Linked DNA regions of Homo sapiens: region 2 is linked to region 1. Evidence: fine-mapped expression QTL. A gene starts in region 1. The other region holds a variant in brackets. All regions are shown on one strand. Distances are from middle to middle.

Region 1 (5,525 bases):
AAACAACTCAATAGCAAAAAAATAAAAAAATTAAAAAACCATATTTAAAAAATGAGCAAAAGACCTGAATAGACATTTCTCAAAAGGAGATATACAAATAACCAACAAGTATATGAAACATTGCTCATCAATAACCATCAGGGAAATGTAAATCAAAATCACAATGAGATATCACCTCACACCTGTTAGAATGGCTATTACCAAAAAGACAAAAGATAAGTGTTGGCGAGGATGTGGAGAAAAGGGAACTCCTTCCTCGCTGTTGGTGGGAATGTAAATTATTACTAACATTATGGAAATAACTCAAAATATTAAATGTAGAACTACAAGCGGGTCCAGCAAATCCACTACAGGGTATATATTCAAGGGAAATGAAATCAGTATGTCAAAGAGCTATCTGCACTTCCATGTTTCCTGCAGCACTATTCAACAATAGCCAGAATATGGAATCAAGCTAACTGTCCATCAACAGATGAGTGGATAAAGAAAATGTGATATACATATACAATGGAATAGTATTAAGCCATAATAAAGAATGAAATCCTGTCATTTGCAGCAACATGAATGGAACTGGAAGACATTCTGTTAAGTGAAATAAACCAGGCAGGGAAAGACAAATATCGCATGTTCTCACTTATATGTGGGAGCTAAAAAATTTGATGTCATTGAGGTAGTAAGTAGAATGGTGATTACCAGAGGCTGGGATGGATGGGTGGTGGGAATGAAGAGAGGCTGTTAATGAGTACAAAAATACAGTTAGATAGAAGGAATATCATAGGGTTTGAGAGCTATATAGAGACAAAAAAATAGGTAAGTGATTGCTAGGAAAGCGGGTGGGATTGAGTACTAATGGTTATGGAGATTCTCTTTTGGGTAATGAAAAAGTCCTAAAGGTAATTGTGATAAAGGTTGTACAACTCTGAAGACAAACTAAAAACCATTGTATTGCACACTTTAAATGAGTGAATCATATGATATATTAATTATATCTCAATAAAGCTGTTTAAAAAAGAATTCTGAGTGGAATTGGCCAGATACAAAAAAGACTAAGATGGCAAATTTTATGATATCTTACTCCAATTTTTTAGAAACATAATTCAGATCACGTTTCCCTAACAACTCTCCAACAGCTTCCCATCTCCCTCAGAATGAAAGCCCCAATTTTCAATATAGCCCATAAAGTCCTACACATTCTGGCCCCTTTCCCTTTCTGGCCTGACCTCTGACCTCCTCTCCGCTCTGCTCCAGCTCACTAGGCCTCTTAAGTTGCTCTCTGAACATAAAGAGGCAGGTTCCCCCAGGGCCTTTGTACTTTCTTCTCCTCCAGAGAACGTCAAGGTAAGTTCTCTCACTTCCTTGAGCTCTGGACTCAAAAATTCCCTTCTCAGCGAGGACGTCCCTGACCACTTATTGTAAAACTGCAGCTCCCTACAGCCCCCCACCCACAACACACACACACACTCTTCATCCCCCTTTCCTTTTTAATCTCTATTTTCACCTTCTGTCATCCTATAATTTTACTTTTTGCCTGTCTCTTTCCACTAAAATGTAAGCTCCAAAAGGAGAGAGATGTTTGTCTGTTTTGTTCATTGTTGGTATCTCTAGTGCCTAGAGCAGTCCTTAATAAACATTTGTTGGATTAATAAAGGGAGACCACTGTGGGGGAAAAAAAATAAAAGAAAATAAAATTTTAGCTGAAGAATGCAAGCCCCTTTAAATTATCAGGCCCAGAGAGGCATTAGAATGAAAAAACAGTCCCGTCTCACTCCCGGTCTGAGCTGGATAATTATCTCTTAAAGCCCACCTGCTATATGGGCTCTAGACTGGAACCAAGAAGCCATAAAATGCCATATGCTGGACACGATAACTCATACCCTATGAGTTACAGTGTACAGCCAATCACTAAGCAATGGTATCTCTGTAAACCAATAACAATTCCTGACCAACTTTGTCTCAGCCCACTCTTCCCCTTCGCCTTTAAAAACCTGCTTGTAACCAAGGCTGAAGGAGCACTCCCCAAGGCAACTGGGAAATGAGTCCTGGGCAGCTGTCCTCATTTTGGCTGAAGTAAACACTTTAAATTATAATTTTGTGCCCCAGCCTCTTCCTTTTAGGTAGACACCACTATTCAATGACATCAAGATCTGAACTGTCCTACTTATCCCAATATCCCACCCCTAAAAAGAAATGTACCGAACCATAAAAAGCCTGAAGTACTCCGACTTACAGACTCCTGTATTAGCATCCTAAGAATTATATTACCCTCTTCAATAGGGAGTAGTATTTTTCATATCAAACCTAGCCTGAGAACAACTGAGATTCAACTAGGAAAAAAAGAAAAGAAAATCCATTAAAGACTGAGTGATTTGAACTCAAAAATATCCATCATCACTTGCTAAATCATAGACAGCAGGTTATTTCCCTCGACTTTGCTGTGCAGACCTGTAGTGGCTCAATTTCTGCCATAATAAAGGCCGTACTAGAAAGAGCAATCCTAACTAAGCGCGCAAGGTAAACATCAAGCTGGGGCCGTCAGGGGCGGGGAAACACTTTCTGAATGGCGGAAGCTCCGAGAGACGCCTTTCCCAGCTGCTCCAGAGGGGAAAGGAAAAGGGAGAAAGTCTGTTTTTCCAGAATCTCCCAAACACAGCCCAGGGGCCTGCTCCGCGGGCCTAAGCGCCTCCACGTGTCTCAGAAGCCTAGCACTATAGATACCCCGGGGCACGGAGCTGGGAAAACGGGAATAGGAAGACACTTTACCCCGAGAAGATCCAGTCCAACAGGTCTTCTTCAGCCGGATGACTGTGGAGCGCCACCACAAGCAGGGCCTGCAACCCAGGCATCCAGGCTAGACACCAAATCAGCAAACTTTATTCCCGCGCTGCCGAGTACAAGCCGGCGCCTCCCCGGCGCACACAGTACACATCAGCTCCGGGAGACCTACCCGACCCGCCCCTCCAGCGCCGTCCCCGCCCCCGTTCCTGCCCCACCCCTTTCCCCGCCCCCGGCCCGGCTCGCCTTTCTCGCGGCGCTGCAACCCTCCCACCACAGCCCATCCAGCCCCGCCCAGCGCGCCGCGGTGCGCATGCGTGGAGGCCCTCGCTGCCGCTGAGCACCTCGGGAAGTGTAGTCTCTTCGCAGGTGCGGCTGGGCAGCTAGAGTCCTGCATCCCGGTGGAATCCGGAGAAGTGAGAACATTCCCGCCGCCCGGTCCTCATTCCCATCTTCCCACCTGTCCAGTCCCCTCGCACTCCCGCTGCACCCCACGCGCCGGGCTTCAGTCAGAGAGTGCACTGAGGAAGAGCGGAGACCCCCTCTTCCCCTCAGCAGGCTGTGCCGGGGGAGGCGGGGTCCACCGCCCGCCCCCCGCCGTCGCTCTCCCCGCCTCCCCTTCCCTCCCCTCCTGGCGGGTGCGGGGCCGGTGTCCGAAGTCAGGCGGCGGCCCCCGCAGCGGCCGCAGGAGGGGCGGCTGCGGTGGGCGCCGCGGGCGATGCCCCTGCCCGGCTGCTCCGGCGGGGGGCAGTGCGAGCGGCGGCGGCGGGGGAGGAGGCGGGGGGCGGCGGCTGCGGCGGCTGCAGCAGAGGGGCCGAGAGCTGGCGGTGGCGGCGGCGGTGGTCGTGAAGGGCATCGGCGGCGGCGGTGATGGCAGAGATGATGTGAGTGCCCGCCGGCTGGAGACCTGGGGCCGCGGAGCGCGGGACGGGCGGCGGCGGCGTGCGGGAGCGGCCCCGGGGGCGGCGGAGGGATGCGGGGAGCGCGGGCAGAGCCGGAGCGGCGGCCGCCAACCGGCCGGCAGTGGCTGGAGCCCCGCGCTGCGGCGCCGGGGGAGCCGGGCCCGGCGTGGGGGTCGCGGGCGGCGGCGGGGCGGTCAGGCCGAGGGGCGTCTGCGATTGTTCTCAACACCCCTCCCCCACCCCATCCCGTGTGTCTGTTTGTTACTTGCAGCTGAAGATGGAAAGAGCCAGGCGAAGGGGAGGCGGCGGCGGCCGCGGCCGCGGAGGCAAGAATGTAGGGGGCTCTGGCCTAAGCAAGAGTAGACTCTATCCCCAGGCCCAGCACTCCCACTACCCCCACTACGCGGCCTCAGCCACCCCTAATCAGGCCGGGGGCGCAGCCGAAATCCAGGAGCTGGCCTCCAAACGAGTGGACATCCAGAAAAAGAGGTTTTACCTAGACGTGAAGCAAAGCTCCCGGGGCCGCTTCCTAAAGATAGCCGAAGTCTGGATAGGGAGAGGCCGGCAGGACAACATCAGAAAGAGTAAACTGACCCTCTCCCTGTCTGTGGCAGCGGAGCTGAAGGACTGTCTAGGGGACTTCATCGAGCACTATGCCCACCTGGGCCTGAAAGGCCACCGGCAAGAGCATGGCCACAGCAAAGAGCAAGGCTCCAGAAGGAGGCAGAAGCACTCGGCACCCTCCCCACCAGTCTCGGTGGGGTCCGAAGAGCATCCTCACAGTGTCCTGAAAACAGACTATATCGAGAGGGACAATAGGAAATATTACCTAGACCTAAAGGAAAATCAGCGGGGTCGCTTCCTACGGATTAGACAAACCATGATGCGGGGGACTGGCATGATAGGTTATTTTGGCCACAGTTTGGGCCAAGAACAGACTATTGTCCTCCCAGCACAAGGAATGATTGAGTTTCGTGATGCCTTGGTTCAGCTGATTGAAGACTATGGCGAAGGAGACATAGAAGAACGAAGAGGTGGAGACGATGACCCGCTTGAACTCCCAGAGGGGACTTCTTTCAGAGTGGACAATAAAAGGTTCTACTTTGATGTGGGCTCTAATAAATATGGAATTTTCCTGAAGGTAAGTGAGGTGAGACCACCTTACCGTAATACTATTACTGTTCCATTCAAAGCTTGGACAAGGTTTGGGGAGAATTTTATCAAGTATGAAGAAGAGATGAGGAAAATTTGCAACAGCCATAAAGAAAAGAGAATGGATGGCAGAAAGGCCAGTGGTGAAGAACAAGAATGCCTCGACTAGAGTGAAATTGAACTCCATCAGGCAAAATTTAAAATCACAAATTGGCTAAAAGTACTGATCCATTATCCTTTGAAGAAGTTTTTCCTCTTTTTTGGCCCGTTGTTATTAGTAATACCTCTAGTAGTTGATACTTCAGGAAGTCTGATTCTCATGTTATGTTACACATAGATCACTATAATTCTTACGGGAATTCCAACCTTCCCAGAGCTAAATAGTTTAGCTGCTTCAACTGCTCCAGACTATTGAAGTATGCAAATCAGCACAAAATGTGACATTCTGACATTCTAAATACCATAACTAAGATTTACATTGCACTATGACATAATCCCGAAAAAAGATACATATACTTAAATAGAAGTGTGACTTTCCCCCAAAAGTATTTCAATTCTACTTCATTAAAAGCTGCTAAGCTTACCTGTAGGGCAGTTACCACAGAAACAGAAATTGACCTCCGGTATATATAAATATTTACTTATAAAAGTACAAGTAGACGTATATTGTCCGTTGAATAACTGAATATACCATCAAAG
Region 2 (5,000 bases), 97 kb before region 1:
ACATCAATCACTCCAAAAAAAAGTAACTGAATTTAATTGATTATTTATTCATTAGTAAAGGCAAAAACCACAATTTTCTTATAACTTTAAATACTTCTGATAGGAAACAGAAGGAAAAATAAATATGTCCCAAATATTGTTACTGAAATTAGACATTTAAAAAATAATCCCTATAACTAAAGTTTTCCTTGAAGAATTTAATGGTTTCCTGGACAAAAGGACAATTTTGTTCTACCTGTCCCTTGATACAATGAAAGTTAACTTTTCCTAATTATCCTAAGCAAGACTAGTCTAGGGATTCACCCAAATGCAATGTGATAAATTAACACAATGCTTCCAGACTGAGCTGCAGAGCTGAACATCGGCTTGAACATGAAAACAGCAGAAGATGCCATACACACGGGTTTTATCCAAAGTAATGAATGTAGTGTTTAACTGGAACTTAGTAAGACTCTATGAGTTCCTAGTCACCCATCTGAAGTCAAAGCTACAATCATAATACTGCAAACCTCTGAAGAAAAGTGTAATAGAAGTAAAAGAAGATCTATGAAGGGAATTCACAGATATATACTTACAGATCCTCGGAGAAATAAAATTGGAAGCCCAATTCCAAATTTTTCGCCTAAGATGTCCACAGCAGACAAAAGCTTAAATGCTTGTGGACCAAAGTCCCAGGATGTATCCTCTGAGTCATCCATGGAATAGCAATGATCCAATCTAAATAAAAATAATAACATTTGAAGAAAGCTTAGCAAAGGCATGTATCTTTAGAAATCAAAAGATTTAGCATAACAATTAGCCAAGTAAAAAATATCTCAAATGTGCCAACTGCTTCAGAAGCTATGAATAAAGTTCATTATACCCGAGTATGTAAAGTAGCTAAAATATGAAAATAAACTATTGTAGCGTAACAGATATGTTACGCTGATGGTTCTCAATCCTAGTGTCCTAGAAGCAAGTTTCATGGGAGGCACCTCAGACCACAGAAAGGAATAATGTCAATAATAGGACGAGCAAGCAGAGTTGCCATATTTATAGCTAGAACAGCTCCACTTACTTGACCAATTATATAAATATTGGACTTTAGTGTTAAAGGTGTGTTGCAAAAAAAAAAAAAAAAAAAGCCTTTCAGCTTAGAAAAAACACATCTCAGTTGCTGCCTCTTTCTTCTGCCACTCCTGGTCCTGTTTAGGGGCTCACTCATTCGGGGCAGACCTGGTACCTCTTTTGTGAAGCAGCAGCTGAGGAGACTGCCACACTCACCAGGGTCCACAAAAAGCCCAAGGAAAGTCAAGACTGAGAACAAGGATAATGTTCATTTGAAGGTTCATCTTAAACTGTGGTGCAGTTTAAGATGAACAGCCACGCACCACACCGCTTAGTAAACCAATGAAAGCCTATTGTAAGGGGCACGGTTTGCCAATGAGGCAGATCAGGTTTCAATTTGACAGGCAGCCAATCAATGAACCAGACACATCTGCACATTTGGAAGTGAGGCTTAAGACAAAACTGATGTGTTCCAGCAGCAGACATGGAGATGTCTACTAAAAGGGGGACCTGTTATTTTACTGCAGAACTCTGCTCTTCCAGACCAAGAAGACAGTCTCAATTAGAAAGCTACAATTTGGCCAGGCGCAGTGGCTCACGCCTGTAATCCCAGCACTTTGGGAGGCTGAGGCGGGTGGATCACTTGAAGTCAGGCATTCAAGACCAGCCTGGCCAACATGGTGAAAACCCATCTCTACTAAAAATACAAAAATTAGCCAGGCATGGTGGCATGCACCTGTAATCCCAGCTACTCAGAAGGCTGAGGCAGGAGAATGGCTTGAATCTGAGAGGCGGAGGTTGCAGTGAGCCAAGATTGGGCCACCACTACACTCCAGCCTGGGTGACAAGAGCAAAACTCTGTCTCAAAAAAAAAGAAAGTTGCAATTTGGTTCCACCACATCCTGACTACATAGTTTTCTCTATTCTTTCACCTTCCCCTTCCTACTCTTTTACTGCACATAAAGTAACTGGTGTATGTCCACAAGCATATTGCTTTTCTTTTCTTTCTTTTTTTAACTAAATGGCCAATAATATGTTTAGATTGACTTCGATGGAGATGGGGTGGGCAAAAGAAGCATTGGTTCTGTGAAAAGACTCCCTTTGTCCCCTAGTGGCCTGCTCATTCAGCTCTTATCTTTATACTCCAGGATGTTATTTTGCTGTCATAGTTTTAGCAAAAAACAATATAAAAATCCTTGCATACCTTGTTCAATTAGAGAATTTTAATGTTTTTCATTTATCATTGTAAAACCAAGGACAATTTTACAACTGTTTTTATGTAGCTGTTACTTGTGGGGCAATCTGTCTTTAAGTAGAAATAAATTACTCTAGTAATAATAACTCCAAGATAGTCTTCCCTTAGTCAAGTGTCTTGCTTAAATAAACTTCTTCTTTAAAATGAAAAAAAAAAAAAAACCCAAATCCTATGCTATAAATTGTTAAACGCTAACGACTGTAAAATATGACAAAAAGATTATAAACCTTTCATTTAAATAGATTTAGAAGTTAAATTCCTAAGTCACCCTTTGGGTAGATCTGAAACTATCATAAATTCAAATGAGAATTATTTAAGTAGGTTGAGAACAAAAGGACTCATTAAAGAAAATCTACTATAGAGTTCAACTACCTAATTCAATTGCTTTCCTTAGAGTAAGTATCTTTGAAATAGCAATAAGAATGCATTCAATATTCCAGATATAATAATGTTTGGGGGAAAAAAACTATGCTTAGGTTTATTCTCCTAATCTCTTTAGTGAGATGCTTAGCTGATTAATTTTCTTTTCTATTATGAGTATTTCAAGCTAATAAACTCCCACAAAGTACTATTCAATGTTGCCTCTTACCAGTTTTTTTTGTTGTTGTTATTAAAATTTTGTAGAGATGCGGTCTCGTTATGTTGCCCAGACTGGTCTTGAATCCTGGCCTCAACTGATCCTCTCTCCTCAGTCTCCCAAAGAGCTAGAA[T/C]GACAGGTGTGAGCCACTGGGCCCTCTTACTAGTTTTTTTTTTTGTTTTGTTTTGTTTTTTTTTTGAGACAAGAGTGTCGCTCTGTCGCCAGGCTGGAGTGCAGTGGCCCAATCTCGGCTCACGGCAACCTCCGCCTCCCAGGTTCAAGCGATTCTCCTGCCTCAGCCTCCCAAGTAGCTGGGACTACAGGCGCGTGCCACCACGCCCAGCTGATTTTTGTATTTTTAGTAGAGACGGGGTTTCACCATGTTGGCCAGGATGGTTTCAATCTCTTGACCTCGTGATCCCCCAGCCTCGGCCTCCCAAAGTGCTGGGATTACAGGCGTGAGCCAACGCACCCAGCCTCTTACCAGTTTTAATGTATATCATTGTAACTATCCCTAAGTTCTAAAAATGTTAATGCATATTAATGTAGTTATCTGTAGGTTTAAAATTTTTTTTAATTTCCAGTTTGATTTTTTCTTTGAATATGAATTATTTAAGTGTTATTTTTAATTTCCAAATGCATGAGGATTTTGTTGTTTATCTGCTTATTTACTTCTAACTCAAGTGCATTATGGTCAGAAAATGTGGTGAGAAAACTTCCAAATTCATTGAAGAATTTTGAGACAAGCTAGTCTAGTACAGGGTCAGAAAACACTTTCTATAAAGGACCAGATAGTAAGTATTTCAGGCTTTATAGGCCATGATAGGCTTTGCAGCCAACTACTTAACTCAGGCAGCCCTACATAACACATAAACAAAAGGCATGGCTGTGTTCTGAGAAAACTTTATTTACAAAAACATTAGTCAAGCGTGATGGCTCATGCCTATAATCCCAGCACTTTAGGAGGCTGAAGTAGGAGGACTGATTGAGGCAAGGAGTTTGAAAACCAGCCTGGGCAACATACTGAGACTGTCTCTACCAAAAAAAAATTTGTTTTAATTAACTGGGTCTGGTAGTGCATGCCTGTAGCTACTTGGGAAGCTGAGGTGAGGCAAGAGAATTGCTTGAGCCCAGGAATTTGAGGTTACAGTGAGCTATGATCATACCACTGCTCTCCAGCCTGTGTGACAGCCTGTAGTGACCCTATGTCAAAAAAATAAAAAAAAATAAAACAGCATGCAGATTTGGCCTACAGGCCATAGTTTGCCAACCCATGCTCTAATACATAGTTTTTTTGTTTTTGTTTTTTAGTTTTTTTGTTTGTTCAGTTGGTTGGTTTTTTTTGAGACAGAGTCTCGCTCTGTTGCCCAGGCTGGAGTGCAGTGGCGCGATCTCGGCTCACTGCAAGCTCCGCCTCCTGGGTTCACACCATTCTCCTGCCTCAGCCTCCCGAGTAGCTGGGACTACAGGCACTCGCCACCACATCCGGCTAATTTTTTGTATTTTTAGTAGAGACGGCGTTTCATCATGTTAGCCAGGATGGTCTCGATCTCCTGACCTCGGGATCCACCCGCCTCGGCCTCCCAAAGTGCTGGGATTACAGGCATGAGCCACTGCACCCGGCCCAATACATAGTTTTTAGAAATATTCCATGTATGTTTGAGGAGTGAAGTCTTTCAGTGCTTCTCAATCAGTGTGCTACAAACAAGTGAGTTCTAAGAGTGCTGAAAGGTTAATCACTCCAGATCTTAGGGTTTTGGACAGAAACTGAACTCTGACAATTAGCCCAGTGTGTTATATACACATATCATTTGCTATGTGGGTCATGAAGTAAAAATACTTGAGATACACTGCTATAGTTGCTTGCTCTAGGGCTCCATATACTATGTATCTGATAAATCAGTATACTATGTATACTGATAAATAGTAATAAGCAAACTTATTACTATGTTGACCAAATTTTCTACAGTGTACTAATTTTTGGATTGTTTACCCTACCAATAACTTAAAATTATATCAAATTCTCCCACTTTGATGGTGGATTTGTTGATTTCTCCACCTCTTCTGTCGGCTTTGTGCTTTATGTATTTGCTGGATTTTTAAGTTTGTTTTTTTTTTTAA

The links. PIP is the estimated chance that this variant, and not a neighbour inherited with it, causes the effect. A credible set is the group of variants that fine-mapping cannot tell apart.
Region 2: its variant is the best candidate, but not a certain one, in a credible set for the expression of WRN in whole blood (TOPMed, PIP 0.63).

What each region holds. Positions count from the first base shown.
Region 1 is chr8:31,031,209-31,036,733 of GRCh38, reverse strand. WRN (WRN RecQ like helicase) reads right to left here and starts at 2,924. Exons shown (of 35, transcript NM_000553.6): 1 at 2,761-2,924. PURG (purine rich element binding protein G) reads left to right here and starts at 3,378. Exons shown (of 2, transcript NM_001323311.2): 1 at 3,378-3,656; 2 at 3,946-5,525. The coding sequence starts at 3,952. The coding sequence ends at 4,995. RefSeq lists enhancers at 1,767-1,816, 2,650-3,171 and silencers at 1,887-1,956, 2,927-3,186, 3,347-3,396.
Region 2 is chr8:31,128,082-31,133,081 of GRCh38, reverse strand. WRN (WRN RecQ like helicase) reads right to left here. Exons shown (of 35, transcript NM_000553.6): 24 at 576-717. It also overlaps the pseudogene SUMO2P16. Among named protein-coding and RNA genes, the nearest start is that of WRN, 97 kb to the right of the region's middle. The variant T/C (reference allele first, on the strand shown) is at 3,013.